4 linked regions of the Homo sapiens genome follow. The protein of the gene in region 2 purifies or fractionates together with the protein of the main gene of each other region. This does not show direct contact. Each region holds a gene or a part of one and is shown on either strand. Other genes may lie near its edges.

Region 1 (7,233 bases), on a different chromosome or scaffold from region 2:
CACCTACTACACCCTGGCGCTGGCCACCTGCTTCACGGTCGCCTCCCTCTCCTACCATCGCATGTGGATGGTGCGCTGGCCCGTCAACTACCGCCTCAGCAACGCCAAGAAGCAGGCACTGCATGCCGTCATGGGCATCTGGATGGTCAGCTTCATCCTCTCCACACTGCCCTCCATTGGCTGGCACAACAACGGCGAGCGCTACTATGCCCGCGGCTGCCAGTTCATAGTCTCCAAGATCGGCCTCGGCTTTGGCGTTTGCTTCAGCCTCTTGCTACTTGGGGGAATTGTCATGGGTCTGGTCTGTGTGGCCATCACCTTCTACCAGACACTGTGGGCCCGGCCCCGGAGGGCTCGGCAGGCCCGGAGAGTGGGGGGTGGTGGGGGGACCAAAGCGGGTGGGCCAGGGGCCTTGGGTACCCGGCCAGCTTTTGAGGTACCAGCCATTGTGGTGGAGGATGCCCGAGGGAAGCGGCGGTCCTCGCTGGATGGCTCGGAGTCTGCCAAGACATCCCTGCAGGTCACCAACTTGGTCAGCGCCATCGTCTTTCTCTATGACTCACTCACAGGGGTGCCCATCTTGGTGAGATCGGGGTCCTCCCCACCTGTTCTCCCCAATATCCAGGCCCCAGCATCATCACCTGACCTCCAACTTCATCAGCCATACAGCAGCTCCGTCATCTCTCCTCCAGTTCCATCATCCATCTTCCTCTCCTCTGTCCATCCCCCACTCCATTTGTGGCCCCCATCTTGATCATCTGTCTTTTAGTTCCCACTACCCTGTTTACCCCAGCTCCAGCATCTGCTTCAGTTCCCACTCCTCAGCTCCATCACCGTCCTTCAGTTCCACGACCTGTCCTCCAGCTCCGTCATCCATCCTGCAGCTCCACGGTTCAGCCGCAGACCTCTCATCCAGCCGCTGGGCTCCACTCTCCATTCCCTCCTTCCCTCGGGCTGCCACATGGTCTCTGAGCACTCTTGGCTGGAAATCCCACAGGGCTCACCCCACCACCCCATCTAGTCACTGTTCCTGGGTTCCTGTCTGTCTCTACGGTTCCTGGTCCACCTCTGTTCCTCTCCCTCCTGACCGCAGGGCTTTGTCTCCAGCACTCTCCCCGACCTTCCTCTGAGTCAGTCCCTTCCCTCTGTTCACTCCATCTCCACCTCCGGCTTCGCCTCTGTTGGAGCACAGGGATCAGGCATTACTTCTGACGTCTTGCCCACCAGCTGCACTAGGATATGGGGTTCAGGTGGGCTCCTCAGCTCTGGCCCTGACCCAGCCCGCTCCCACCCTTCCCCAGGTGGTGAGCTTCTTCTCCCTCAAGTCGGACTCGGCGCCCCCCTGGATGGTGCTGGCTGTGCTGTGGTGCTCCATGGCACAGACGCTGCTGCTGCCCTCCTTCATCTGGTCCTGCGAGCGCTACCGCGCCGACGTGCGCACAGTGTGGGAGCAATGCGTGGCCATCATGTCTGAGGAGGATGGAGATGACGGTCAGAGGAGGGGCTGGGCTTTGGCTTTCCTGGACATCTGTCTATTCCCTTTTCTGCCGCTCCTTCTCAGCCAGAGGATGGGCTGCCCTGGAGTGCCCCCTACTGGACAGAATCTGCACCACCCTGGGCTCCCCTTTCCCTAAGCAGGCACCCTGCTGTCCACTCACTGCTTCCCGCAGCACTCAGGGCTCCCTTCACTGGGCCTAGGCTCCCCTCCAGAAACCCACACTGCCCAGCTCTGGCACTATGGGGAACCTGAGCTTCCCGAGAGAGGCCCCCCAGCTATAGGGACGGCTCTTGGGGGAGTGCAGGCAATTGTTTCAATAACTTCATCTATATGTATGAAGCACTCCACTCAGGATTTAGCACTGAACGCAGCAAATGCTAGCCACTCTCACTGTCCTCTTGGAACATACATGCTAATGGGAACTAAAGGGGTCTCTGGGAGCTTATAAAGGCAGTGGTGGGAGGCCGCGGTAGGCATTCCCTACCTGTAACCACTCTGCCCATTTTCTCTCCTAGATGGGGGCTGTGACGACTATGCAGAGGGCCGAGTTTGCAAAGTTCGCTTTGATGCTAACGGAGCCACAGGACCAGGGAGCCGGGACCCCGCCCAGGTGAAGCTGCTGCCTGGAAGGCACATGCTCTTCCCTCCTCTTGAGAGAGTCCACTACTTACAGGTATGGAACTGGGGGATACATCTCCTACCCTTGGTGCCGCTCATCACTTTTCTCCAGTGTCTGTTAGGCACCCCAATCCCCTCTTCCCTAGCCCTGGCTTTCAGGGCACCATAGAGCTGGGTGAAAGAAAGCTATAGCAAGAGAGGCATCCCTTCAGACCTCGTGGGGCCAGGTTTGCCCACCGGAGCAAACGTTTTGAAGGTTAAGAAGGTGGCACCATCTTCCGGAGTCCCCACTTGGTTCCTGCCTCTGCCTCTGTCCCTGCAGCACCTTCAGGTCTTACCCGCTCCTCTTCCCAGGTCCCCCTATCCCGGCGTCTGTCCCATGATGAGACAAACATCTTCTCTACCCCTCGGGAACCAGGCTCCTTCCTGCACAAGTGGTCATCCTCTGATGACATCCGGGTCCTCCCAGCCCAGAGCCGGGCCCTCGGGGGTCCTCCTGAGTACCTGGGACAAAGACACAGGTTGGAGGACGAGGAGGACGAGGAAGAGGCTGAAGGTGGGGGGCTGGCCAGCCTTCGCCAATTCTTGGAGAGTGGGGTTCTGGGGTCAGGTGGGGGACCCCCACGGGGTCCTGGCTTCTTCCGGGAGGAGATCACCACCTTCATCGATGAGACACCTCTGCCTTCTCCGACTGCCTCACCAGGGCACTCTCCTCGTCGGCCCCGGCCACTGGGCCTCTCACCCCGCCGACTCTCCCTTGGGTCCCCTGAGAGCAGAGCCGTTGGACTTCCTTTGGGACTAAGCGCAGGGAGACGCTGCTCCCTGACGGGGGGTGAAGAAAGTGCAAGGGCTTGGGGAGGATCCTGGGGCCCAGGCAACCCCATCTTTCCCCAGCTGACCCTGTGAGCCCAAGCAGGCCTGCTGAACTCAGAGGAGAAAGCCTGAGTGAGTAACACCTCATTCTGGCCGAGAGTAGGGCAGCTGCCTCCAGACTCTGGGGAGACGGGCGCTAGATTTGGGGCTCAGAAGGCCCTGCTCTCTCCCATCCAAGTGACCAGATGCCCTACTCAGCTTCCATCACCCCTAGCAATATGTATTAAAGTCTGAAGTGTTGCCATGGAAACCTCAGTGTCCAGTGTACTGCGGTGGAAAGGGGCTTGGAGGGTGGAGTGGCTCACAGGGGACACGACAGAGCAGGGGCAGCAGACAGAGGCACAGAAGGACACATGGAGAAATGATCACATGCTCCACCAGGCAGCCTCGCACAGGGAAGGCTGGGAGGAGCATATCCTGCTGGGGGCGGGGCTTGAGGACACACATCTTCGTTGGTTGGGGTATGAAGGATCTCTGTTCAGATTTGTTGAGGTGGTTTTAGAGCGTGGCTCCAGCCCCAGTGCCCAACTCTCCTTCTAACCTCAAATCCATGCAGGGGCTCACTTTATGGGCAGGAAAGGTTTTGGGGCTGATGCAGTGTCCCGGGCCTGGACACCTCCTCCTTGCTGCATTTTAAAGCTCTTTCTCCAAAGGAGTGCAGGGGTGGATGAGTGTGTGTGTGGGCGGGGGTGGGAGTGCAGGGGTGGATGAGTGTGTGTGTGGGGGAGTGCAGGGGTGGATGAGTGTGTGGGGGGGGTGGGAGTGCAGGGGTGGATGAGTGTGGGGGGGTGGGAGTGCAGGGGTGGATGAGTGTGGGGGGGTGGGGGGGGGCGAGGGGGGGATCGGCGTCCACACTCCTTTTTCTGGACCCAGAAGCGTGTGTGTGGAGGGAACACAGCCCCAGTAGTTACCCCCAGACCTCAGGGGCTGAAGTCACCGCTGGGGCTGAAGTCATCCTTCATGGATGCCCAGGCCTGCTCCAGTTCCCGCCTTTTGCCCTCCTCCTCCCAGTTTCTCCCTCTTATTCCACACTAGACCAGCTTTGTCCACTCAGCACTCTTCTCTCTCCATCTTTTCACATGGGCCTCTCCCACCATCGGGTCTCAGCCCCATCTTCTCTCTCTCTCTCTCTCTCGGCCTCCCTCATTATTTCTCCCTCTCCCTCCGCCTCTCCATCTCTCCTTCCTCCCCCTCCCTCCCCTTCCCCCCTTTCCTCTCCCTCCCTCTCGGCTCCCGCATTTCCCCTCGGCTGCCGGCGGCTCCGACATCATGCTCCGGCTCCTCCGGCCGCTGCTGCTACTGCTGCTGCTGCCTCCCCCGGGGTCCCCTGAGCCCCCCGGCCTGACCCAGCTGTCCCCGGGGGCGCCCCCGCAGGCCCCCGACTTGCTCTACGCTGACGGGCTGCGCGCCTACGCGGCCGGGGCTTGGGCGCCGGCCGTGGCGCTGCTGCGGGAGGCGCTGCGGAGCCAGGCGGCGCTGGGCCGGGTGCGGCTGGATTGCGGGGCGAGCTGCGCGGCCGATCCGGGCGCCGCGCTCCCCGCCGTGCTTCTCGGGGCCCCGGAGCCCGACTCCGGGCCGGGACCCACGCAGGGGTCCTGGGAGCGACAGCTTCTCCGTGCAGCGCTCCGCCGCGCAGACTGCCTGACCCAGTGCGCAGCACGGAGGCTGGGCCCCGGGGGCGCGGCGCGGCTTCGCGTGGGGAGCGCGCTCCGGGACGCCTTCCGCCGTCGGGAGCCCTACAACTACCTGCAGAGGGCCTATTACCAGGTGGGGAGCGGGCCGGGCAGCTCCGAGGGTCCCAGCCCTCACCACGACGCTGTCCTACTTTGCGTTGCCCAGGAGTAGGCGGAATGCTGTTGCCCGGGCCCCGCACGGGGCTGGGGAGCGTACCGCGGGCCTCTGCGTAGGAGCTGGCTAAGCGACCGCGAGGACCTCTTGAGATCGCAGAGGAGCAGCCGAGGGGGAGTGCGAGCAGAATGGGAATGGGGCGGGGAGGTCGTGAGGTGGGACGGGAGCAGATCGAAGATGGAGGGACAGGGCCGCCTCTTCCTAGGAATGAAGCGGAGGCGGTGGGGGCGAAACCGGCTCTCGGACGGGAAGTGTGCGTGGGTGTGTGTGTGTGTCGGGGGTGGTGGTGAGTGTGAACCTTCGCTTGGGGCAGGAGGTAGCTTCGGAAAGGAAGGAGCAGACGGAGGCAAGGTTGGGGTCCTCCGAGGCCAGACCTCTGCGGGCGGGGAGGGGACAGCACGCCGCAGCCGCCGGTACCGCAGCAGTTGCCTACGTGGCTGGGGAAGCGGGGCGCCGGTTGTACTCACCTCAGCTCAGGGTCCTAGAGACCTGCGGGTTTTGCTGGTCGCTGAGGTCTCCCCCACTTCCCCACCTCACTTAAGCCATCACTTCCACCTGGTCTCCCAAATTGAGGTCCTGAAGTCCTGAGACCCATGTCCCACCCAACTCCGACGTCTTTAGATCCCCTTTCCCTCGGTGCCAGCCTTCTGAGAGTCCCAACGTTCTGGCCTCTAGGGGATCTGCAGTTCGGGCGGTGGGCGGTTCTGATTGGCCAGTCTTCCATGAGGCTCTGGGGCACCCAGAGTGTGTGTCTGGGGTAGGGTGGGGAGGCTGGCCAGGGGGCAGAGGTCTGCCCCCCGTCCCAGGGCTCTGATGCCCTCCTCCCTTCGCCTCCTCAGTTGAAGAAGCTGGATCTGGCAGCTGCGGCAGCACACACCTTCTTTGTAGCAAACCCCATGCACCTGCAGATGCGGGAGGACATGGCTAAGTACAGACGAATGTCGGGAGTTCGGCCCCAGAGCTTCCGGGACCTGGAGACGCCCCCACACTGGGTGAGAATCCCAGCACCACCCCTGTCTTGCCACCAGCCTTTTCCTGGCTGGATACACAGGCCTCACTAAACTGTGCGTTGTGCTGCTTGAGCATACAGATGGGGTAATGATCCTCAGCGACCCTGGCTGGGAGTCCTTCTCTAGGACTTCGTTTCCTTCCTGGATGATCACTGAAATCTGATGTTCTAACATTATGATTCTGAGGCCCACCCTTATTCTTCTCCACGGTGAAGAGGGACATGGAGTCCTTGCCCCAAATGAGACCAACACCCCTCTCCTCTCTACCTCCCAGTTTGGCAACCCCTGGATCTTAGGTGACTGACTGCTCCCTTCCCCAACAGGCAGCCTATGACACTGGCCTGGAGCTACTGGGGCGCCAGGAGGCAGGACTGGCACTGCCCAGGCTAGAGGAGGCTCTTCAGGGGAGCCTGGCCCAGATGGAGAGCTGCCGTGCTGACTGTGAGGGGCCTGAGGAGCAGCAGGGGGCTGAAGAAGAGGAGGATGGGGCTGCGAGCCAGGGGGGCCTCTATGAGGCCATTGCAGGTAAGGGTCCCGTGTGTGAGGGGGTGGGTCGGTGCCCAGGGAGGGGCATGAACAAGCTGAATGGCTTATGGGTTTCCTCTGCAGGACACTGGATTCAGGTCCTGCAGTGCCGGCAACGCTGTGTGGGGGAAACAGCCACACGCCCTGGTCGCAGCTTCCCTGTCCCAGACTTCCTTCCCAACCAGCTGAGGCGGCTACATGAGGCCCATGCTCAGGGTCAGTTGGGGAAGGGTGGAAACGGGGAGTGAAGATTTGCCTCTGCTGCTATCCTGAGCTCCATCTCTCTATCCCTCCCATCTGTCTCTGGATTTGTAGTTTCACTGTCAGGGCTGCATGGGAACCATCACTTCACAAGGACTCTAATTTGCCCTCCTTTGGCGCCTGTGACAAGCTCAGGAGATGGGCTTCCTTCTGCCTTGCTGCTTCTCACCTTCCTTTATTTTCCCCCCTCTTGCTCTTCTTTGAACTCTCCAGCTAAGGTATGTTTGCACCAGTGTTTGAAAGAACCGGCAGCTGAACTTGTCTGCCAGTGGGAAGGGGGCTCTTGGAGTTAGCTGTCTGGCCTCTGGAGACCACCTTCTCCAGCACTGCCTCTGCCCCAAGGATCAATGTGCTCTAAGTATTCATCCCCCAACCCCTGACCTTGTCGCTCCCTCTCCAGTGGGCAATCTGTCCCAGGCTATAGAAAATGTCCTGAGTGTCCTGCTCTTCTACCCGGAGGATGAGGCTGCCAAGAGGGCTCTGAACCAGTACCAGGCCCAGCTGGGAGAGCCGAGACCTGGCCTCGGACCCAGAGAGGTAATCCCCTCTCCACGCTCACCTGGGAGGTAGCCCCAAATCAAACAAATAGACCTGAGAAGT
Region 2 (7,021 bases):
CCAGCTTCACAAGGTAGCCCGAGACCTCTGAGGGTCTCACCGAATCTAGCTTATCTGGGCCAAATGACAATCACCAGTGGACTGTGTCCCCAAATCACTGAGTTAACTTTGGAGTCAGACTGGGTGAGTTTGAATCCCAGCGCCGCTATTTTATTGGCTGTGTGACCTTGGGCACATTACTCAACCTCTCTGTGCTTTAGTTTCTCATCTATAAAATAGGCATAAAAGTCGGGCGCGGTGGCTCATGCCTGTAATCCCAGCACTTTGGGAGGCCCAGGTGGGCAGATTATCTGAGGTCGGGAGTTCGAGACTAGCCTGACCAACATGGTGAAACCCTGCCTCTACTAAAAATACAAAATTAAGCTGGGTGTGGTGGCAGATGCCTGTAATCCCAGCTACTCAGGAGGCTGAGGCAGGAGAATCGCTTGAACCTGGGAGGCAGAGGTTGCAGTGAGCCGAGATTGCGCCATTGCACTCCAGCCTGGACAACAAGAGCAAAACTCCGTCTCAAAAAAAATAAAAATAAATAAATAAATAAATAAAATAAAATAGGGATAATAATTGTGCAATCACACAGAATTGCTGCAAGGGCTAAGCAAGCTGACATGCGAAGTTCGTAAAAGGTGCCTGGTGCACAGGACGCATCTAGTTGCTTCTAACTGTTGTCATCTTCACTTCCATCCCTGTCACTGTTAATCCTTCCTACCTTCCTAATTGTACCTGGTGGCAGTCAAATTGGTTTTCTTTTCTTTTTTTTTTTTTTTGAGACAGAGTCTCGCTGTGTCACCCAGGCTGGAGTGCAGTGGCACGATCTCGGCTCACTGCAACCTCTGCCTCTTGGGTTCAAGCGATTCTCCTGCCTCAGCCTCCCAAGTAACTGAGACTACAGGCATGCGCCATCACAACTGGCTAATTTTTTGTATTTTTTTTTTTTTTTTTGAGACGGAGTCTTGCTCTGTTGCCCAGGCTGGAGTGCAATGGCGTGATCTCAGCTCAGTGCAACCTCTGCCTCCCAGGTTCAAGCCATTCTCCTGCCTCAGCCTCCCGAGTAGCTGGGATTACAGGCGCCTGCCACCGTGCCTGGCTAATTTTTTGTATTTTAGTAGAGATAGGGTTTCACTATGTTGGCCAGGATGGTCTCGATCTCCTGACCTCGTGATCTGCCTGCCTCCGCCTGCCAAAGTGCTGCGATTACAGCCATGAGCCACCGCACCCAGCTGGATGGTTGTTTTTCCTTTTTTTTTTTTTTTTGAGATGGAGTCTTGCTGTGTCTCCCAGGCTAGAGTGCAATGGTGCGATCTTGGCTCACTGCAACCTCCGCCTCCCAAGTTCAAGCAGTTCTCTGCCTCTGCAACCTCCGCCTCCCGGGTTCAAGCAGTTCTCTGCCTCAGCCTCCTCCCGAGTACCTGGAATTACAAGTGCCTGCCACCATGCCCGGCTAATTTTTGTATTTTTAGTAGAGACGTGGTTTCACCATCTTGGCCAGGCTAGTCTTGAACTCCTGACCTGGTGATCTACCCGCCTCGGCCTCCCAAAGTGCTGCGAATACAGGCGTGAGCCACTGTGCCTGGCCTGGACTGTTGTTTTTCAAAGCGAAGTTGAGGATCACCTGGCACATTTTGTAACAAAGTGGATCTCTGGGCCACACCCAGGAATCAACAATGTCTCTGGATGTGGGATCCTGAGCGTGGTGGCGGAGCTCTATCCTGATGACAGAGGCTCTTAGGAGGCCTGACCTGGTCAGAGGAGAATGGGCAAAGGATGGCCAGGGAAGGGTGTTCCTGGCACAGGGCTGGCATGGGCAAAGGTCTGGAGACAGGAAAGCAGATGGCCGGGGTGCCAGAGATGAAGGGGCACAGCCTGGCAGTGACAGGAGGTGCTACAGTCCCTGGGTGGAAGCTGTGTCCTCCTCCTCACCCCCGCATCCCCTTCCCCATCCCCAACCCCAGGAGCAGCACCACAAGGCTCAGGTGGAAGAGTTCCTGGCACAGCATGGCAGCGAGTACCAGTCTGTGAAGCTGGTGGGCCCTGAGGTGCGGATGGCGAATGCAGATGCCAGGAACATGGGCGCGTGAGTTGTGGGCCACAGTACTCTCCACTGACAGTGGGGGCAGGGGAGCTGTGGCTGTGGTAAGGAGCAGCAGGCTGAGTGACAGGAGTTCAGAAGGCTGTGTGTGCTCTAGCAAGTTCCTGCCCCTTTCTGGGCCTTGGAGTTTCCATCTGTCAAAAGGGGAAATAGCCTCTGTCCTGCCAACCCCCGGGGCTCCTGGGCAGGGCTGAGCCATGTTATTTGGGTTCAGGAAGCAAATCAGAGAAAGAGGAAGGACTGGGGGCAAAAGTAGACAAAGGCTGACTATTAGGGAGCCAACCTTGAATGTTTTACTTTATTATATATAAAAAAAAAAGGCCGAGAGCAGTGGCTCATGCCTGTAATCCCTGCACTTTGAGAGGCCAAAGTTGAAGGATTGCTTGAGGCCAGGAGTTCAAGAGCAGCCTGGGCAACATAGCGAGACCCTATCTCTTCAAAAATTAAAAAAAAATAGCCAAGTGTGGTGGCTTGAACCTGGGGTCCCAGCTACTGAAGAAGCTGAGGCAGGAGGACCTCTTGAGCCCGGGAAGTCGAGGTTGCATGAGCTATGATTGCACCACTGTGTTCCAGCCTGGGAAACAGAGCGAGACCTTGTCTCATAAAGCAAAACAAAAACAAAGAAAGAAGTAATTTGTGTTGCTTGTAGAAGAGTCAGACAGTCCAGATCAAAGGTTGGCAAACTTCCTGCTAAGGATTAGATCATAAATCTTTGCAAATTGGCTCTGCCGGCTCTGTGACAACCCTCAGCTCTGCCCTAGTAGCACAGAGGCTGCATTCCAGCAAAATTTCATTTATGGACACTGAAATTTGACTTTCATGTCATTTATTTTTTTTTCTTTTTGAGACTTGGTGTCACTCTTGTCATCCAGGCTGGAGTGCAGTGGCAGGATCATAGCTTACTGTAGCCTCAAACCCCTGGGTTCAAGTGATCCTCCTGCCTCAGCCCCCCAAGAAGCTGGGACTACAGGCATGTGCCATCACATCCAGTTAATTTTTAAATATTTATTTATTTATTTATTTAGAGACTGAGTCTCACTCCGTCACTCAGGCTGGAGCGCAGTGGCGCGATCTCGGCTCACTGCAACCTCCCCGTCCCAGGTTCAAGCCATTCTCTTGCCTCAGCCTCTCAAGTAGATGGGATTACAGGTGCTTGCCACCACACCTGGCTAATTTTTGTATTTTTAGTAGAGACGAGGTTTCACCATGTTTTCCAGGCCTGTCTCAAGCTCCCGAACTCAAGTGATCCGCCCGCCTTGGCCTCCCTAAGTGCTGGGATTACAGGTGTGAGCCACTGCGCCTGGTTAATTTATTTATTTTTATTTTTTGTAGAGACAGGATCTTGCTATGTTGCCCAGGCTGGTCTCAAACTCCTGGCTTGAAGTTATCCTCCCGTCTCAGCCTCCCAGAGTGCTGGGATTACAGGCATGAGCCACTGCACCTGGTGATGACCTTCACATAATTTTTACATCTTCTTTTGATTTTTGTTTTCTTTTTTTTTTTTTTTTTTTTGAGATGGAGTCTCGCTCTGTCACCCAGGCTGGAGTGCAATGGTGCAATATTGGCTCACTGCAAGCTCTGCCTCCCACGTTCACGCCATTCTCCTGTCTTAGCCTCCCGAGTAGCTGTGACTACAGGTGCCCACCACCATGCCCGGCTAATTTTTTGTATTTTTAGTAGAGACGGGGTTTCACCGTGTTAGCCAGGATGGTCTCGATCTCCTGACCTCGTGATCCATCCACCTCAGCCTCCCAAAGTGCTGGGATTACAGGCGTGAGCCACCACGCCCTGCCGATTTGTTTTTTTCTTGAAACAACTTAAAAACATAAAATCAGCCAAGTGCAGTGGCTGTAATCCCAGCACTTTGGGAGGCCAAGGATTGCTTGAGCTGGGGAAGTTGAGGCTGCAGTGAGCTATGATTGTGCATTCCAGCTTGGCTGACACAGTGAGACCCCCATCTCTAAAAAAGGAAAAAAGGCCGGGTGCAGTGGCTCGCATCTGTAATCCCAGCACTTTGGGAGGCCGAGGCGGGCAGATCACCTGAAGTCAGGAGTTCGAGACCAGCCTGGCCAACATGGTAAAACCCTGTCTCTACTAAAAATACAAAAATTAGCCTGGCATGGTGGTGCACGCCTCTAATCCCAGCTACTTGGGAGGCAGAGGCAGGAGAATCGCTTGAACCCGGGAGGTGGAGGTTGCAGTGAGCTGAGATTGTGCCATTGCATTCCAGCCTGGGCAACAGAGTGAGACTCGTTCTCAAAAAAATAAAATAAAATAAAAATAAAAAAAAGAAAAACATAAAGCTGTTCTTAGCCCATGAGCTGTACAAAACCAGGCAGGGCCAGAGTTTGACTCACAGACCCTCGTTTGCTGAGTCCTGTACCAGATAAACAAAAGTAACACAGATTTTTAAGGCTTTTGGTACAAGTTACCAAATTGCATTTCAGAAAGGCAGCCCCAGCTTACTCCCCACCCTGGGCCATGTAGGCACCTGTGGGCTGTGTTCTTCCCAGTACCAGGATTTTCAGGGCACTTGATACCAGTTGCCAACCTCTGGGCCTTGGGTGAGAGAGCCCAGCAGTCCAGGGGTTTGGGACTCAGAGTCGGGAGGAACCTTTGAGGCTGCTGGTGTGACCTCTCTAAAGCCCCTTGGCTGATATGTGGTGAAGCCAGACTGTGGTCACAGATGTGAGCAGCCACCAGTAGCTCCAGGATCAGGTGCACTGACCCTGTGTCCTCCTCCTTGCAGAGACCTGTGCCGGCAGGACCGCAGCTGCACCTACTACTTCAGCGTGGATGCTGACGTGGCCCTGACCGAGCCCAACAGCCTGCGGCTGCTGATCCAACAGAACAAGTGAGGCTGCTCCGTCTGCACCCAGCACTGCTCAGGACTGGCCTGGTCCTGGGGTGGCAGCCCTCCTTGCCTTCCTCCTCCTCCTCCTCATCCACCTCCTCTTCCTCCTCTTTTTCCTTCTCCTGCTCCTCTTTCTCCTCCTCGTCTTCCTCCTTGTCTTCCTCCTCCTCTTCCTCTTCCTCCTCTTCCTCCTTTTTCCTCCTCCTCCTCGTCTTCCTCATCCTCTTTCTCCTCCTCCTCTTCCTCCTCCTCCTTGGCCTCACCTATTACCCAGAGCTGTGGATCCCCAGCCTGATACCCCAGGTTCTGATAGAGAAGGTGTCCTGCCCTGTCTGCTCCTGGCTGCCCCATGGGAGGGAGCAGGTACCAGAAGAGCCAAACCCCCGACACCCCGGCCAAGGCACTGCCTGTCTCAGTGAGGTGCTTGGGGATCCCTGCGTGCAGGTTGAGGGGCACCTACCTCCCCCCATCCCTGGTTAGTGCTGTCTCCTACTCCCAGTGGGCAGCGACCTCCTACTGAGGTGCTCCCTTCCCTCAGGAACGTCATTGCCCCGCTGATGACCCGGCATGGGAGGCTGTGGTCGAACTTCTGGGGGGCTCTCAGTGCAGATGGCTACTATGCCCGTTCCGAGGACTACGTGGACATTGTGCAGGGGCGGCGTGTGTGAGTACCTGCAGGGTGGGGGTGGGTGGGGGACACCTTCATCTGGCTTCTGCCTGGGCTTGTGGGGCTCCCTCCCTATTATTCCTGTTCTTGTTACCCTCAAATTCCTGTTGAACCTGAAGCAAGGAAGACTTCAGTTAGACACACAGAAGGACTTCCTGACAAATAGGCCCATGTGTCCAGGGCGGGGGAATCAAATCAGCACAATTGTGCCCCCCTAGCCTGTGACTTCCCTTCTCACACCCAGACTCCAGGCTATGACTCCCCACCACCACCCTGTGACCCCCTCCATCTTCCCCACCACCAGCCTCTGACCCCCACCCGCTTTCTGTCTCTCCCACAGTGGTGTCTGGAATGTGCCCTATATTTCAAACATCTACTTGATCAAGGGCAGTGCCCTGCGGGGTGAGCTGCAGTCCTCAGATCTCTTCCACCACAGCAAGCTGGACCCCGACATGGCCTTCTGTGCCAACATCCGGCAGCAGGTCAGCCAGGAGCGGGCAGCACAGGACGCCCTCTGGATGGGGCAGGCGGGAAGGTGGGCCTCCAGCTCTGACCCTCATGGTGGGCCGCCTTGTCACCGTAGGCCTGGGAGCTCCAGAGATTCTAGCAGGGCATCTCGGAAGCCACCAGGGCCTGCTGGAGGAATGGGGGCCGTCGGGCACGAGGGCTGGTCCTCAGGGGTCTGCAGGGACCATTTTAGCTGACCTGGTTTTTATACCATCTATTTTATTTACATTTTTGGAATAGCCCAAAGAAAACGGAACTTTCCACCTAAAGGTACTCCAAGTGATGTGCCCGAGAGACACCTCACCCTGTCTCTGCGCCCCACCCCATATATTTTTGTGACTTTTTTTTTTTTTTTAAACATGCAGCAAGATGAAGTTTTCCCCTGTGACCAACATTTCAGGACCAGAACACGCTCCTTTTCTTTTACGCATTTTTTCTTTCATTCTGTGTTCAGTCCTCTGGGAAGACTTCCCTGATCACATTCTTAGTGTCAGGCCTGGGCTGGGCCCTGGGGACATAGCGGTGACTGCACTTGGTCTCTGATATTGGGAACTTCAGTTCGGCGGGTGGAGGAGGCTGCACTGTTGCCCGTCTGGGAGCGTGCAGGGGAGGGGTGAGGGCAGGGGAGGGGTGGGGGAGCGCCTCTTCCACCGGGCCTGTCCTCCCCAGGATGTGTTCATGTTCCTGACCAACCGGCACACCCTTGGCCATCTGCTCTCCCTAGACAGCTACCGCACCACCCACCTGCACAACGACCTCTGGGAGGTGTTCAGCAACCCCGAGGTGAGGCCAGGGTGGGCACATAGGGGCTGGGAGCAAAGGGGCCCAGTGATCCTGCAGTCGGAGGGACTTCCCTCTCAGAGTCTTACAACAGCCAGGACCCCTGTAGGCCACCTGCCACCCTCCC
Region 3 (7,015 bases), on a different chromosome or scaffold from region 2:
ATATTTAGTATTATAGTTCAGAGTAGATCTTTCATTGAGGATTGCCCTCAACAGCTTAACTACTTTCCTCACATTGGTGTCCAGCTAAGTACCTCAAGTTAAAGGTAAGATCCCTTTACCAGCAGATCATCAGTGCGATGAATTAGGTTGTTGTAAATTATGGCAAGTGTCTGTGTTGCAAGAGACACGTATTTGGGTCATGTGACCAGAAGCATCTAATGGTCTAATTCTCTTTAATGCAAAAGTCGGTTTATGAAAGACTTGGTTTAACCTGTGTGGTATAAACTTACTGAAAATCAGATGTAGTGAGAGTAGTTTGAATGCTTGTAGTCTCAGTATCTGAAATAAGTGTTTTGAAATTGTTCCTGGGCCTAAAGTATTTGAATGTTTTTATGCTGAAGAGCTGATAAGATTGCATGTTTAACAATGTTAGATAAGATATCGTATATTTTAAGTATTAATATTTATGATGTGATACGCTGGAAGCAGGAAATCCTTTCATGGTTTAGTGTAGTATGTTAAAAATTGATATATGTATCGAGTCCTAATGTCAGAATTTTTAAAATCAAGTCTGTTTTGTTTTGACACTAAATTGGTGAGAATTGAATGCTGTCAACGTTAAATATGAACATAATTTCATATCTTCTAGGAAAGTGCTTTAAGTCCTTTTTGTAAGCTTGGGAATGTATCCACGGAAAGGATTTTTCATAGACGGAATTTCCAGAAGTGAATCATAACTACTGTTAGAGCATAAGCATGCATGATTGTGCTGTGTAGATCAGTTTTGTTGAAAGTTTAGATTGTTGTGTTTGTCAATTATAATTTAATGTTTCAGTTTTTATATGAAATGTTGTAAATGTATACCTTTTTAAAAACTTGAAGTTCCAATAACTTAAAGCATTGAAATATAAAATGAGGTAAAAGGTGTTTTGAATTTAGTAAAACTGTTATTTAATGCTTAAAACTTAATTGAATTGTATAATTCTCAACATTAAGTTGCATAGATATGTGTTCTTAAGTTGTTGAATTCTTAATGCATCCTGTGTTCAGCAAGTTTTTTTTAATATATACTGTACCATGGGTGTGTTAAGAATAGTTATACTTTATAATAATGGAACTTCATATTATTGCAATGCATATTTAAAGAGTACTTGTTGAAAGCATACCATTCACCTAAAGTTAAAAATTCTGGTTTATTTAAAGCTATAAGAAGAATCATTTCTGGGCTTGTGATGTTAATATTGCCCCCCTACTGGGGTTATTTGTCCTTGGGTTGAAGGGTTGGAAATCGTGCCAAATGGGATAACATTGCCGGTGGACTTCCAGGGGAGGAGTACGGGGGAGGCCTTCGTGCAGTTTGCTTCACAGGAAATAGCTGAAAAGGCTCTAAAGAAACACAAGGAAAGAATAGGGCACAGGTGGGGATGGATGGTTGGTTGGATATGTCACTTTTCTTATGGTAAACAATTAAATCCATATTCTCTCTGCTTAAAAGAAGAAATTAATGTTTTGTAGTCCTAGGTAATTGATGTTTTGCCATGATTTCCAAACTTGTGTCAGTCCCACGTTACACGCAAACTAAATTTTAGGTTTGAAATTTGTCCCTAGTTAATTGGTCTGCTTGACAATTTTGTGAGTCTTATTAACCCCAATCAATAGAGTTGAGAGACTATGGCTTTAAAAAATTAATGCAAACCTGGCTTTAGCTGTAATAACACCCACCTAGAATAAATTAATATTACCATAAGAAAATGTGATACTTTCTGATCTTGTTTTTAAAGTTGAAATGCAACAAACTTTTTCTTGCTGTATATAAATATTCTGCATAGTATTAATAAGCATAGCTTTCAAGAAATTGTCACAAAAGGTTTTATTCTCTTTGCTTGTGACTATTTTTCATTGAAGCATGCGCTTACCTATGCTGATTCTTACTAAAAGCATAGGCTGGGGTATTTATTGGCGAAAGGAAATGTGTAGTGTGGGCTGGACTGTTGGTGGAGGCTGGCTTTTTAGCCCACTTGCTATACATGCTGCCAATGGATTTAAGACTTGAAATGTTGAAAGTTGAGTGGAATTATTTCCCTCCTAAAACATTTATTTACAGTACTCCTCTCTACCCCTAAGGTTGGGCTCTGCCTCAGAGGAGTGAGTTTTTTTTTTTTTTCTATAAAGTTTACATTGTCTTACTATTTATTGAGTGAATTTCTGGTCATTGCCTATGCAAATATAAGAAATCTGGCTTTAAATATTAGTCAGTTTCATGGCTATGACTAGATTGTTTTCTTGTATAACTAAATACCTGTATAAAATGAACTAATGTTTTCTCTCCCCTCCCTACCCCTTCCTTATGAACAATGCTTTAGGTATATTGAAATCTTTAAGAGCAGTAGAGCTGAAGTTAGAACTCATTATGATCCACCACGAAAGCTTATGGCCATGCAGCGGCCAGGTCCTTATGACAGACCTGGGGCTGGTAGAGGGTATAACAGCATTGGCAGAGGAGCTGGCTTTGAGAGGATGAGGCGTGGTGCTTATGGTGGAGGTACGTGAGGATTCGTAAGGTTCGGCAAGTCGTCTGTTCCTTTGTCTAGGTGTTTTATTTGATTGATTGTACTTTGTCTTTCAGGCTATGGAGGCTATGATGATTACAATGGCTATAATGATGGCTATGGATTTGGGTCAGATAGATTTGGAAGAGGTAAGGTAAGAATTGAATTTCTCAGTTGAAGGATGCTTACACTCTTGTCCATCTAGACCTCAATTACTGTTTTTCAGGAATGTCTGATCACAGATACGGGGATGGTGGCTCTACTTTCCAGAGCACAACAGGACACTGTGTACACATGCGGGGATTACCTTACAGAGCTACTGAGAATGACATTTATAATGTAAGTGTGAGATGAACTCACAAGTCAATATTTCAGTATGGCAGTAAGTCAGCCTTATTCTATAAATGTGAGCACTATGTTAGAAATTTTAGGTTTTTTTTGTAACGTTAGAAAGTTGGTTGAATTCTTTGAAATGCCTTGTGTTGTAGTTTTTTTCACCGCTCAACCCTGTGAGAGTACACATTGAAATTGGTCCTGATGGCAGAGTAACTGGTGAAGCAGATGTCGAGTTCGCAACTCATGAAGATGCTGTGGCAGCTATGTCAAAAGACAAAGCAAATATGCGTAAGTGTGATTGAGCATTTGTGGGCTCTTAACAGGTGATTGTGTGACTAACATTTACAATAGAGAAATGGAAAAATAAGGATATATGAGAAGTTTCCTCTCCAGTAATAGATTAATTCTTGGGGGATGCGGGGGCAGTGTGTTGAAGGTTTGGGTTTTAAAAATTAGTATAACGGATTTGTGATATGCACATCTTGAAGTGTATATCCTTAATTGACAATACAGATGAATATGTAAAGGCTAGATTTTGGAGTTAAAGTAGATCACCTAAGAGAAGTAGCTAGAATTTCTTTGCCAAAGTATTTGAAGTTCACAGATCTGCTTGTTTAAAAACTTTATAAAAGTGCTTATTCTGTTTTGTTTCACCAACAAACATTTTCAAACTTTTTTTTTCTCATTTCAGAACACAGATATGTAGAACTCTTCTTGAATTCTACAGCAGGAGCAAGCGGTGGTGCTTACGGTAGCCAAATGCTAGGAGGCATGGGTTTGTGTAAATATCACTTTAGTGTCTTTTTTTTAAGCTAACCTTGTATGCCTTTTCTCTCATTTCAGAACACAGATATGTAGAACTCTTCTTGAATTCTACAGCAGGAGCAAGCGGTGGTGCTTATGGTAGCCAAATGATGGGAGGCATGGGCTTGTGTAAATATCGTTAGTTTTTTTAAAAACCAAAACGTTTATATCTGTATAAGTCAATTATAAGTTAAGTTAATCTATTTATTTAATAAGTTTAGCATAAGAAACTTAGGCAAAGCAGTTTCTTGATATTTGAGTTTTGTATCTGGCTTACTTAAATCCTTGTGAGTTATGAAGTTCCTTAGGATAGATAATTCAAATTAGGTTTAAGTAGTCTTGGGGGAGGGGACTACGGAGTGAAACTACTTAAATTTTCTAAGTATAAAGTTTAAATCAATAGCAAAACAGGATTAAGATAAATGTGGGCATAATTAGGTGTATTGACATGCCTTTGATGTATCAAACTGAGGGGGAACCCACTAAATCCAGTCAAGCAGTTTCATAAGATCTTCACAAAATGCCTCTACTTACGGAATCATGTTGATTTTAGTCCTGCTGATGTGTGTACCGTTAGCACTTTGGTTTATCAATATTTGACTGGCTCAAATGATGGATAGAAGGGTGGCCTGGTTATAGACAGTAGGCAGAAGGAGGCAGAGGGTTACAGTAATGTAAGATCAAGACTGGAAAATGATAGCTATAGAATTACAAGCCCGGTACCACCAGGTACCACATCACATAAGAAAAAAGGTTCTAATGTTTTCTTAACTTAACAGCAAACCAGTCCAGCTACGGGGGCCCAGCCAGCCAGCAGCTGAGTGGGGGTTACGGAGGCGGCTACGGTGGCCAGAGCAGCATGAGTGGATACGGTAAAGCCTGTTTGTTACTGTACTTAGAGTAAGTTATGGTAAAGCCTGTTCATTACTGTACTTAGAGTAAGTTATGGTAAAGCCTGTTACTGTACTTAGAGTAAGTCGCAGGCAGGTGCCTTTAGTTGGGAAGATGCAGGCTCCTTTCGGTGAAATTGGGTTATGAAATGTATGCTTTCAATCCAAATGTAACTGTTTTTACTAGCTAATTTTCAGAAACAATCATTGGGAGGGGGAAGTGTTCTTTGAATTAAGAACTAGTCATTGCAGCTTTGGAATACTGTCGAGCCAGAAAATATCTGCCTCCATGTATTAAAACATTAAATAAAGTTGTTCACTTTTTTGTCTTTTGGTTAGCATTAAGTCAGTTTTAGACAGAGGGAGAATTTGAAATAGTAGAATGGTGGTTGGGTTCAGGATCGTATTTATTAGTCAGTTAACCTAGGATTGGTTTTATTTATTTTTTTTCAATTGGTCTAAAGAATGGTGATTTTGGTATTATAGTCTTACCCTACAAAATCCTTTTGCAGACCAAGTTTTACAGGAAAACTCCAGTGATTTTCAATCAAACATTGCATAGGTAAATATTTTCTCAAAAAATATAAATTCCCAATAGCAAATACTGATATGTTGTAATAATGCTTTCTATAGCAGTCAATGGCTCTGACTTAACTCCATGGAGGCTGCCATTTGGGCACAGTGAGTTGCCTTTAGTCCAGCTTGGTTGTCTCACTTCCTGCCCACCATGAATAGGAAAAGCAAGAGACTTCCCCTGTGCTCCCTTTTCTCAAATGCCATTCGAGGGACACATTGTGAATGTTTATGTTAAATTTTTTTTAAAAATGCCTTGTTTAGCTTTAAAAATACGAAGTAATTTTGCAATTTTTGAAAAACACTAGTTTTCCTTTAAACTTAATTTTTCATGTTGATCCTGAAGAATCCGTTAAAATGGTAGCACAAGAGTCTGGCAAGTTGGTACTGCAGAGAAAAGGGGTTAATTGAGGCTTGTTTGGAGTCGGGATTCCCCTTTCCCAAACATGCGTCTCGCCACTTGGACAGCAGCCATTTGTACTCGTATACTTTTTAAACTTTTTCTTGGAATACTATATTTTATTTGACTGGTAGTCTGATATTACTCCTAACTTGTCAAATTGATCTCTTTGCAGGTAACCAAGGAGCAGTGAACAGCAGCTACTACAGTAGTGGAAGCCGTGCATCTATGGGCGTGAACGGAATGGGAGGGTTGTCTAGCATGTCCAGTATGAGTGGTGGATGGGGAATGTAATTGATCGATCCTGATCACTGACTCTTGGTCAACCTTTTTTTTTTTTTTTTTTTTTTCTTTAAGAAAACTTCAGTTTAACAGTTTCTGCAATACAAGCTTGTGATTTATGCTTACTCTAAGTGGAAATCAGGATTGTTATGAAGACTTAAGGCCCAGTATTTTTGAATACAATACTCATCTAGGATGTAACAGTGAAGCTGAGTAAACTATAACTGTTAAACTTAAGTTCCAGCTTTTCTCAAGTTAGTTATAGGATGTACTTAAGCAGTAAGCGTATTTAGGTAAAAGCAGTTGAATTATGTTAAATGTTGCCCTTTGCCACGTTAAATTGAACACTGTTTTGGATGCATGTTGAAAGACATGCTTTTATTTTTTTGTAAAACAATATAGGAGCTGTGTCTACTATTAAAAGTGAAACATTTTGGCATGTTTGTTAATTCTAGTTTCATTTAATAACCTGTAAGGCACGTAAGTTTAAGCTTTTTTTTTTTTTAAGTTAATGGGAAAAATTTGAGACGCAATACCAATACTTAGGATTTTGGTCTTGGTGTTTGTATGAAATTCTGAGGCCTTGATTTAAATCTTTCATTGTATTGTGATTTCCTTTTAGGTATATTGCGCTAAGTGAAACTTGTCAAATAAATCCTCCTTTTAAAAACTGCACTCTGTCTTGTCTGTGCTTCAGTGTCATGTGGACTGAGTCTTGGTGCTCTGTGCCCACCTGGGGCCTAGGGCCACATCTCTGGCTTGGCAGTTGAGGCTGTTGCGTAGATGTCTTCAGTCTTCCCTCCAGTGCAACTGAAGGTAAACTCGTCTTTGGGGCCCTGGTGGAAGGGCTGTATGTCATTTGGCTGCACAGGACCTGATCTGAACTGCCTGTAACTCATTAAGCACTTGCACAAAACAAAGGGGGAGGCGCCAGTGCCCTCACTGCATGCCTGCATGTCTTTGAGGCCTTCATGCTTGGCTGGGAAGGTGCCGGAGGCAAGGGAGGTGTGATGAATATGTGGGTTTCTTCTAGCTCATAAGCTCATAGGTTTGTTTTTTTTTTTGAGGCAGAGTTATATTCTGTTGTCTCAGGCTGGATTGCAGTGGCGTGATCTCAGCTCACCTGCAACCTCCACCTTGTGGGCTTCTGCCTCAGCCTCCCAAGTAGTTGGGGTTACAGG
Region 4 (7,439 bases), on a different chromosome or scaffold from region 2:
TTGGCAAGGCGATGCTCTCCCGTGGCCAGAGGGACGGTTTTGTCGCCCGCGGGCGAGGCCGGGTGGGGAGCAGCTCCGGCTCCGACATCCGGCTGCGGGTGAGCTAGGTCCGCGCCCGGAGCAGCTCAGAAACCCGGCGGCGCTCAGGCAGGAGTAGGGGAAAAGACAAACCCAGTGGCTGTTTTTGTTTGTTTGCTTCAATAAAATAAGTGAAAGCCCTGGGTATGTTTATGCGTTGCTTTTACACACAAAGACACACAGACACAAGCACACGCACACACAGCCGGGGTTGAGGCCCGTTACGGGTTAGGACTCTGTACAGAACTGCCTGCAAAGGCCCGTCAAGTGGTCCCAGGGCCCCTACCTACTACAGAGTTGTGAATTAATCCCTTAAAGATTTAATGATGGAACCAAGGGAGAGAGGAAGGAAGATGAGGAAGAAAAATAAAAGGAAGGCAGCGAAGGAACGGAGTTCGAACCCTGGCCAGGCCCATACTTCTCTCTCGCGGGGGACCGCAGTCTCGCGGCTCCCTGGCCCCTTCCCCAGCTCGGCGCACACATCCACCTGCGAAGGCCAGGCACACGCACGTGTGACCCCTTGTTTCCAGCGTCCCAGGCCTTCCTCACTTCTAAGCTGAGCCGTGTCCCAGTTGGGGTCGGCTTTGAACCGCGTTAACGACCACAGGTCTTAGTTTCATTGCATCCGATTCTCCCCTGCAGAAGGAGGACTTAAGCTTCTTATCTGGGTGGGGGGTGGGGGCCCGCGGAGGAACTCGAACCACTCCACACCAAGCATGGCTGGGTTGCTGAAGCCGTCACCTGACAACAACCCCGTCCAGGGAAGGGTAGGCAAGGAAAGGGGGCAGGCGAGGGACAGCCACAGAGGGAAGCCCTGGAGAGACTCGAATGGGCACCGCAGAGCCCCGCCGGCCCAGGCCCTGCTGTCTGCCAACCCTGCGGTCCTGCTAAATAGGAAGGACCCTGTCGCCGCGAGAGGCCGCCGTCTGGGCCCGGGGCCCGAGGCCCGAGGCCGCGGCCTCTCCTTCCACCTTTCGCCGTCGTCTCCCTCTGCTTCTACCTGCCTGGTGAATATCTGAGGAAGGGGCTCCCAGCCAGATCCTGCTGGGAAGTGTAAGCTGAGGCAGCCAAGCGTGGTCAAAGGACCGAGTGCCGCTCAGGTACTGCGGGACTGCGCCGGGAGCAGGCCCCACGGGTGTAGCAAGGGCAGCTTCCGGGAAGGGCGGAGCCGCTTCCTCCGCTGGCGGCTACCCGGAGTACCCGCGCACCCTACAGTCCTCACTGCCGCGGATCCCCCACTTGAGGAGCCCGCCCTCCCCGCGACCTGGACCGCCCCAAGCTGTCGCAGACCCGTCTTAAACACAGGCAAGTTTAACCCGGGACACCGCAGGAGCCGCCACGTGCCTGCCCTCGCGGGTACCCTGCCCCGAGTCCACCCATCCTCCCCACAGCTGAAGACAGGCCTGGTTTCCTCCAACGAGCAGCACAATCCTTGCAAAGCACAGTTTCCAATGGTGTAGGTGCCTATTTGGGAAAAGAGGTTGGAAAAGAGCAGGCTGCAGCCGCTGGACCTGGCTACCGACTGGCCAGCAACTCCCAGACAGCAGCATTACTTTATGTATGTATGTATGCATTTCCAAGTCAAAGACCCAACACGACCCTGCTGATTCGCTTTTAAACCTCAGGGAAAGTGACTGGCTGGCATCTGGGTACACTAGAACCTCACCTCCTAAATTTGTTAGGTATCTTGCAATGCGGCCACTGAGATGGAGAGAGGCTGGGAGCTGGACGAACGGCCATCTCTCCTTCCATCTTGGCCTCGGCTCTAAGAACCTAAATCCCTGACTGGGATGCGTGCGGAGTTCAATCCAGTATCGCCTGGCGGTGCTCCCCGGAGGCGCCTGCGGGAAAATTCAGCTTTCCCTCTCCACGACAGGAGGCGCTGTTTTCGTGGAAATCCCCCGGCTGCGAACCTGGGATCCCTGACCTGGATCAAGTCTCCGAAGCTGGCAGAGTCCATTCTGCATCACCGGTCTTGGGCTTTGAAGAAGCCTAGGAGAAATTCCGCTTCGGCCATCACGCTATGAAAAGTGGATTTTTTTTTCTTAAGTCAATTTTTTTTTTTTGAAAATATGAGACTTAGTAGGTTTGGGAAGTGGGCTAAAAGAACATTTGATATTGTAATTGACCCCCCCTTTAAGGTGACAGTGTTTTTCCCCTACTTAAAGCGCCAACTTTTTTGTGCACTATAAAAGCTATTACTATCCATAAATTGTTACTCTCGGTAGAAAATAACCTAGTCTTGCTCGGTGTTATTGAAGAGCCAAGAGGGTATTGGAGAATCACCTCCAGAAGGAACAAGGAAGCTCATTAGCACTGAAAGTCCCCCGGATCAGGCCCAGGAAGCTAAGCATCCGTATACTTTACAAATGGAACTAAAGTCAGCTACTAATGGGAACTTTGCACAAAAGAATTAGTTTCTGACACACAATTCGCAGATACATTTACACAAACTGATGGGACAACTTGCAGTCACAGGAGCAGGCTGCATTAGGGAGGGTTCCTGCCCTACTGAGTTCCAGGTGGATTTAATTTCACTCATTCCTTTCCTTATGATGTGACGTTTCTACCCCCCCACCCTTTTTGTAAAAAAAAAAAAAAAAAATGTAATCCAATGCTTTTATCTTTTTTTATTTCCTTAACTGCACATCTTCACCCTCTCTGCTCCCCTGCTGACTTAAGAGATTTGTTTGGTTCAGGGATTTAAAGTGATTCTCTTGCCAGATTTCAAGTAAAAGAGATTTAAAAGAACAAAGCACAGGGAAAAAGGTATCTGTTTGGAAGACAAGTTAAAACACATTTCTTAAAATGAGATTAATAACATTTTAAAAACTTTGCAAAACAAGAAGATTTTGCGGATTCTTAATTACTTTAGATTTTATTTTATTGTTACTTAAGGAAACCTAGTGGTTCTACAGGCAGTACAACAAACACATGGTCACAGACACTCAGAAACACACACAGTCACACATGCTCAGAAATATACAAACGGTCACACACTCAAAACACACGCACCATCTCCCAATCTATCACCAACTAATTGCCTATCACCCGGTCACTTCAGTTGTTCTCTCTCCCAGGACAAGTGGGCAACCACCACCCAGGGCCTCATGAGAGTAAAGAGACTTTGCGTTGGGAAGACTCTCCCACCGACGTCCAGGACCGATTAGGAACCAAGCGAGCCCCTGAGATCTCAGCCCGGACCCTCCGGGTCACAGACAGGACCAAGCGCCGCTGCGGGCAGTCTCGGGCTTCTGCCTGGCATCTCTTTCGCAGTGCAGATGCGTTCCCGCGCCCAGGCCCTTGCTCTCCCAGCTAACGCGCGTGTTATGGGAGATGTCCCCTCCCCCTGACCTTTTCCTATCAGAAACCAGACGGTCGTCTCCAGCTCACTCCCTGAAGCGGCTGAAGGGGGGCGGGAGGAGGAGCCCGGCAGGGGGAGGACGGCCCGACTTGGGTCCGCCTGCCCTATCACACAGACATCTGCTCTCAGTTTCTTCCTCTTTGTGGTCGCTACAGATGACAAGGGGAGAGGAGCGGACCGAGGCGGAACAAAAAAAAAAAGTTATGTCATAAAGATATAAACCGGTGCTGTGACTCACCTGCTCTTAGCCGCAGGTACGAGTTTCGTGGCAGCGCCTCCGCTCTGCTAGCCCGGGGCCCGGGTCGGCCTAACGTCACTTGGCTCGGCTGACTCAGATGACCCGGTTTCTAGTGACGAAGCAAAAGTGGGGCTTTTTCCCTTTTCTAGTCTGAAGCTCTCAGGAGGAAAGAAAAAAAAAAGTCTGTATTCTCCAGTCTCCCGGGGTTGAACTTTGGGTCAGGAATCAGGAGGGAGGAAGCAAAGAGCAGGAGGGGCGCGAGACTGGGCCGCAGCCCGCGCTCGGAAGGTGGCGTGTACCTCTGGGGAGGGACCCCGGGGTCAGTTATCCCACAAGGTCTCTAAGCCCAGTCTCCGACGCCACCGCCCCCGGCCTTCTCCGGCTGCGAGGTTCCGATCCAGAGCCCTAGCCCGCCCGCCCGCCTGGCCCCGCCTATTTTTTCTTTTTCCAAAGGGGGTTACACCCCCTCCCTCCCCATTTCCCTCTTTCCCTAGCCTCCGGGCCTAAACCAATTACACTGCTTTGCAAACAAAGTGAGGGCCCCGCTTGGGGGAGGGGTCGCGGGGGAGGGGTCGCGCGCAGCGGTGAAGCGGCGGGGCGGGAGGCGCGGCGGCCGGACTGGCGGGCGGCCGCCTTGCAGGTGCACCTCGGGCTTTGTAGGTGCGAGCGTCTTTGTGCGGCGGACAAATGGGGAGAGGACGAGGAGGTGGGCACTCAAGCGACGTAAGATCCACATCAGCTCAACTGCACTTGCCTCGCAGAGGCAGCCCGCTCACTTCCCGCGGAGGCGCTCCCCGGCGCCGCGCTCCGCGGCAGCCGCCTGCCCCCGGCGCTGCCCCCGCCCGCCGCGCCGCCGCCGCCGCCGCGCACGCCGCGCCCCGCAGCTCTGGGCTTCCTCTTCGCCCGGGTGGCGTTGGGCCCGCGCGGGCGCTCGGGTGACTGCAGCTGCTCAGCTCCCCTCCCCCGCCCCGCGCCGCGCGGCCGCCCGTCGCTTCGCACAGGGCTGGATGGTTGTATTGGGCAGGGTGGCTCCAGGATGTTAGGAACTGTGAAGATGGAAGGGCATGAAACCAGCGACTGGAACAGCTACTACGCAGACACGCAGGAGGTGAGAGGCAAGGCGAGGCGGGCGGCCGGTGGGGCGCCGCTGGAGCCCGTGCCGGGGGAGGCCGGGGAGCGGTGGGCGCCAGGCAAGGCAGGCAGGCGGGCCGGGGGCGCCTTCTCGGTGCCACCGCTGCCCGCCCGCCGGTGTGGCCCCGGCCGGGCCTTGGCCGGGCCTGGAAGCGGGACCTGCTGCCCTGCTCTGTCCCGACTCTCGCAGCCGGAGAGGGAGTTTTAGGAAACTCCGGGCTTTGAAAACAGCGGCTCTAGGAAGCGCTTGCCTCTTCCCAGCAGCGAGCGGGAGCAGGAGCCGGGCCCGGGGTGCAGCGGGCGGGCGAGCGCCGGTGCGAGTTGGAAGCAACTCTGAGAAAGCCGGAGCATACCCACAAGGCGACCTCTTCGTCCCACCGTTTAATTCGCAGACGTCTTCTGATTAAAGCGCTCTGCCGCCAAGTTGGGTGTCTCAATAATGAAACGATTTCTAAATTTTGTAAAACTTGTTCTTCAAAAGCCCTATTTGGGGAGAAGTGTGCTCCTTCTCTAAAACCGCTGGGTGGCGCTAGTGCGACCAAAATCTTCTTCACAACTCTGGGCCGAGAACCTGTTTCTCTTCATTGTCCCCTTGGTGGCACGTTCATGGGGGTTATTTTTACAATGTGCACAAAAGGATTACAGGGAAAACCAGTTACAGGGAGGACTACCACCTATTAAAAGTATTTTTCTGGAAACAGCTGGCGATTACCCTCCAAAAGTTTAATTACCATTATTGAAAACGCGTATTGGAACTGCCTTGGATAATCTTGGGAAGAGGGAAAGAAAATAAAGCCCCAAGGTAAAAAATACTTTTAAGACGTGGACAGAAAAATATAGGATCACGTAATATTTTGATGGTAACTGACTTATTTAGATTTATGTATTCACAAGTTTACCTCTGAGTTTATTTGCATACCATAGTTTACTGGGTGTTCCTATTTAAATCTATTTGTTCTCATATTTTCAAATTGAGTCATACTTGCTGATTAAAATAAACTTAAGGACATCATTATTCCTTATTAAATTACCAGAGGAGTGCTTTTTAATATGCCTAGGTTTTGTATGTTTAAAATACTGTACCTAATGCATTCCCACATCGCTATTGATAAGGATTTTCGCTTGTTGATGATTTTAAAAGGAGCTCAGAGGTCTTCCAGAGATTTAATTCTGACGCAGTCATCTCGACCCCACCATTCAATTAAGACCCCTAGCGAAAGTACTTTCTTACATGTTAAAGCTGAGAATTAGGAAATACAATAGCATTAAGAGAAAATAAGTAGAATTTGATTTTCGAATTTTAAATTATTCAAGACTACTCACGGAATCTCAAAGCCAGGCGTTGAAATCATCGGCAGCAACATCAGCATGTGAAAAAAAAAAAAGATTTATTTTGACAAACTGTGTCACCAAATTTTTCAAACAGGGGACTGTAAAGTGGTGACAAAATTAATGCGAGTTTCTAAATAGCTTGCAAAGGTGTACATGTAAAGTCATGTTAAAATAAAATGCATATAGCACTTTGAGATTATTATAGCACCCCCTCCCAGCCCTTTCTGTTATGGATCTACTTTTAGTTTTATTTTTCCAAAACTTATTTAACTCTGAGTTTGCTTCCCTTTTAACATTACAGTTGCTACAAGCAGGTAGAAAACACTACTTCTAAATACAATAAACAACAAAAAGTCACCATAGGCAAAAACCCCTAGGACAATAAAGCCACTTGTTGGGAAACAGATGATTCAGGGGGTCCCATGTCCATAGGTGATTTGCTCTATCAACGATTTCCCCCCAAAGGGCGCTTTGCCGAGGCTGGTTGGGGTGGAGACTTGGGATACCGCCTGGCGTGGATGGAGGAGGCGATGAGGGGGCCCTGGAAGCCAGCCCCTGAGCCTGGCGTGTAAGGCGATTACACATCTTCCTGGGGTCATATTTTCTGTGAGCGTTTATCTTTCATGCCTGCCGCGCTAGGATTTTCCCCCTGCCGTGCAAGACATCTTTGCTCGGTCTGGGGAGGGCGCTTAGCCATTTGCCCCGGGTGGGGGCGTCCCGTGTTCTGCAAAGTGCTCTGCACTTGCCCCCGGGTTAGGTCCCGGACGGCCGCCCTCCAGTGCCCACCACTAACCCCGCCCTCCGGGGCTTCTTCACTCGCTGTCTCCACTCCAGGCCTACTCCTCCGTCCCGGTCAGCAACATGAACTCAGGCCTGGGCTCCATGAACTCCATGAACACCTACATGACCATGAACACCATGACTACGAGCGGCAACATGACCCCGGCGTCCTTCAACATGTCCTATGCCAACCCGGGCCTAGGGGCCGGCCTGAGTCCCGGCGCAGTAGCCGGCATGCCGGGGGGCTCGGCGGGCGCCATGAACAGCATGACTGCGGCCGGCGTGACGGCCATGGGTACGGCGCTGAGCCCGAGCGGCATGGGCGCCATGGGTGCGCAGCAGGCGGCCTCCATGAATGGCCTGGGCCCCTACGCGGCCGCCATGAACCCGTGCATGAGCCCCATGGCGTACGCGCCGTCCAACCTGGGCCGCAGCCGCGCGGGCGGCGGCGGCGACGCCAAGACGTTCAAGCGCAGCTACCCGCACGCCAAGCCGCCCTACTCGTACATCTCGCTC

Evidence for each region.
Region 1: the proteins of PLOD1 (region 2) and P3H3 purify together in Homo sapiens (affinity purification with mass spectrometry; 2 studies listed by BioGRID and IntAct, with this or other methods). This does not show direct contact.
Region 3: the proteins of PLOD1 (region 2) and HNRNPH1 purify together in Homo sapiens (affinity purification with mass spectrometry; 3 studies listed by BioGRID and IntAct, with this or other methods). This does not show direct contact.
Region 4: the proteins of PLOD1 (region 2) and FOXA1 purify together in Homo sapiens (affinity purification with mass spectrometry; 3 studies listed by BioGRID and IntAct, with this or other methods). This does not show direct contact.

Annotation. Positions count from the first base shown.
Region 1 is NC_000012.12:6,824,183-6,831,415, forward strand, and holds the start of P3H3 (prolyl 3-hydroxylase 3 precursor), read left to right. Parts: upstream 1-4,224; 5' UTR 4,225-4,258; coding exon 4,259-4,756; intron 4,757-5,676; coding exon 5,677-5,829; intron 5,830-6,170; coding exon 6,171-6,372; intron 6,373-6,456; coding exon 6,457-6,588; intron 6,589-7,033; coding exon 7,034-7,170; intron 7,171-7,233. Other genes in the region: GPR162 (probable G-protein coupled receptor 162), read left to right, coding at 1-583, 1,302-1,491, 2,014-2,171, 2,471-3,022. UniProt on the Homo sapiens protein: Part of a complex composed of PLOD1, P3H3 and P3H4 that catalyzes hydroxylation of lysine residues in collagen alpha chains and is required for normal assembly and cross-linkling of collagen fibrils.
Region 2 is NC_000001.11:11,958,697-11,965,717, forward strand, and holds part of PLOD1 (procollagen-lysine,2-oxoglutarate 5-dioxygenase 1 isoform 2 precursor), read left to right. Parts: intron 1-1,949; coding exon 1,950-2,071; intron 2,072-4,835; coding exon 4,836-4,940; intron 4,941-5,478; coding exon 5,479-5,604; intron 5,605-5,947; coding exon 5,948-6,089; intron 6,090-6,783; coding exon 6,784-6,897; intron 6,898-7,021. UniProt on the Homo sapiens protein: Part of a complex composed of PLOD1, P3H3 and P3H4 that catalyzes hydroxylation of lysine residues in collagen alpha chains and is required for normal assembly and cross-linkling of collagen fibrils.
Region 3 is NC_000005.10:179,613,672-179,620,686, reverse strand, and holds the end of HNRNPH1 (heterogeneous nuclear ribonucleoprotein H), read left to right. Parts: intron 1-1,279; coding exon 1,280-1,418; intron 1,419-2,363; coding exon 2,364-2,542; intron 2,543-2,626; coding exon 2,627-2,698; intron 2,699-2,754; coding exon 2,755-2,888; intron 2,889-3,037; coding exon 3,038-3,173; intron 3,174-3,576; coding exon 3,577-3,636; coding exon of another isoform or gene 3,637-3,666; intron 3,667-3,728; coding exon 3,729-3,818; coding exon of another isoform or gene 3,819-3,827; intron 3,828-4,468; coding exon 4,469-4,561; intron 4,562-5,091; coding exon 5,092-5,141; intron 5,142-5,727; coding exon of another isoform or gene 5,728-5,846; 3' UTR 5,847-6,509; downstream 6,510-7,015. UniProt on the Homo sapiens protein: This protein is a component of the heterogeneous nuclear ribonucleoprotein (hnRNP) complexes which provide the substrate for the processing events that pre-mRNAs undergo before becoming functional, translatable mRNAs in the cytoplasm.
Region 4 is NC_000014.9:37,592,250-37,599,688, reverse strand, and holds the start of FOXA1 (hepatocyte nuclear factor 3-alpha), read left to right. Parts: upstream 1-4,439; 5' UTR 4,440-4,716; coding exon 4,717-4,788; intron 4,789-6,977; coding exon 6,978-7,439. UniProt on the Homo sapiens protein: Transcription factor that is involved in embryonic development, establishment of tissue-specific gene expression and regulation of gene expression in differentiated tissues.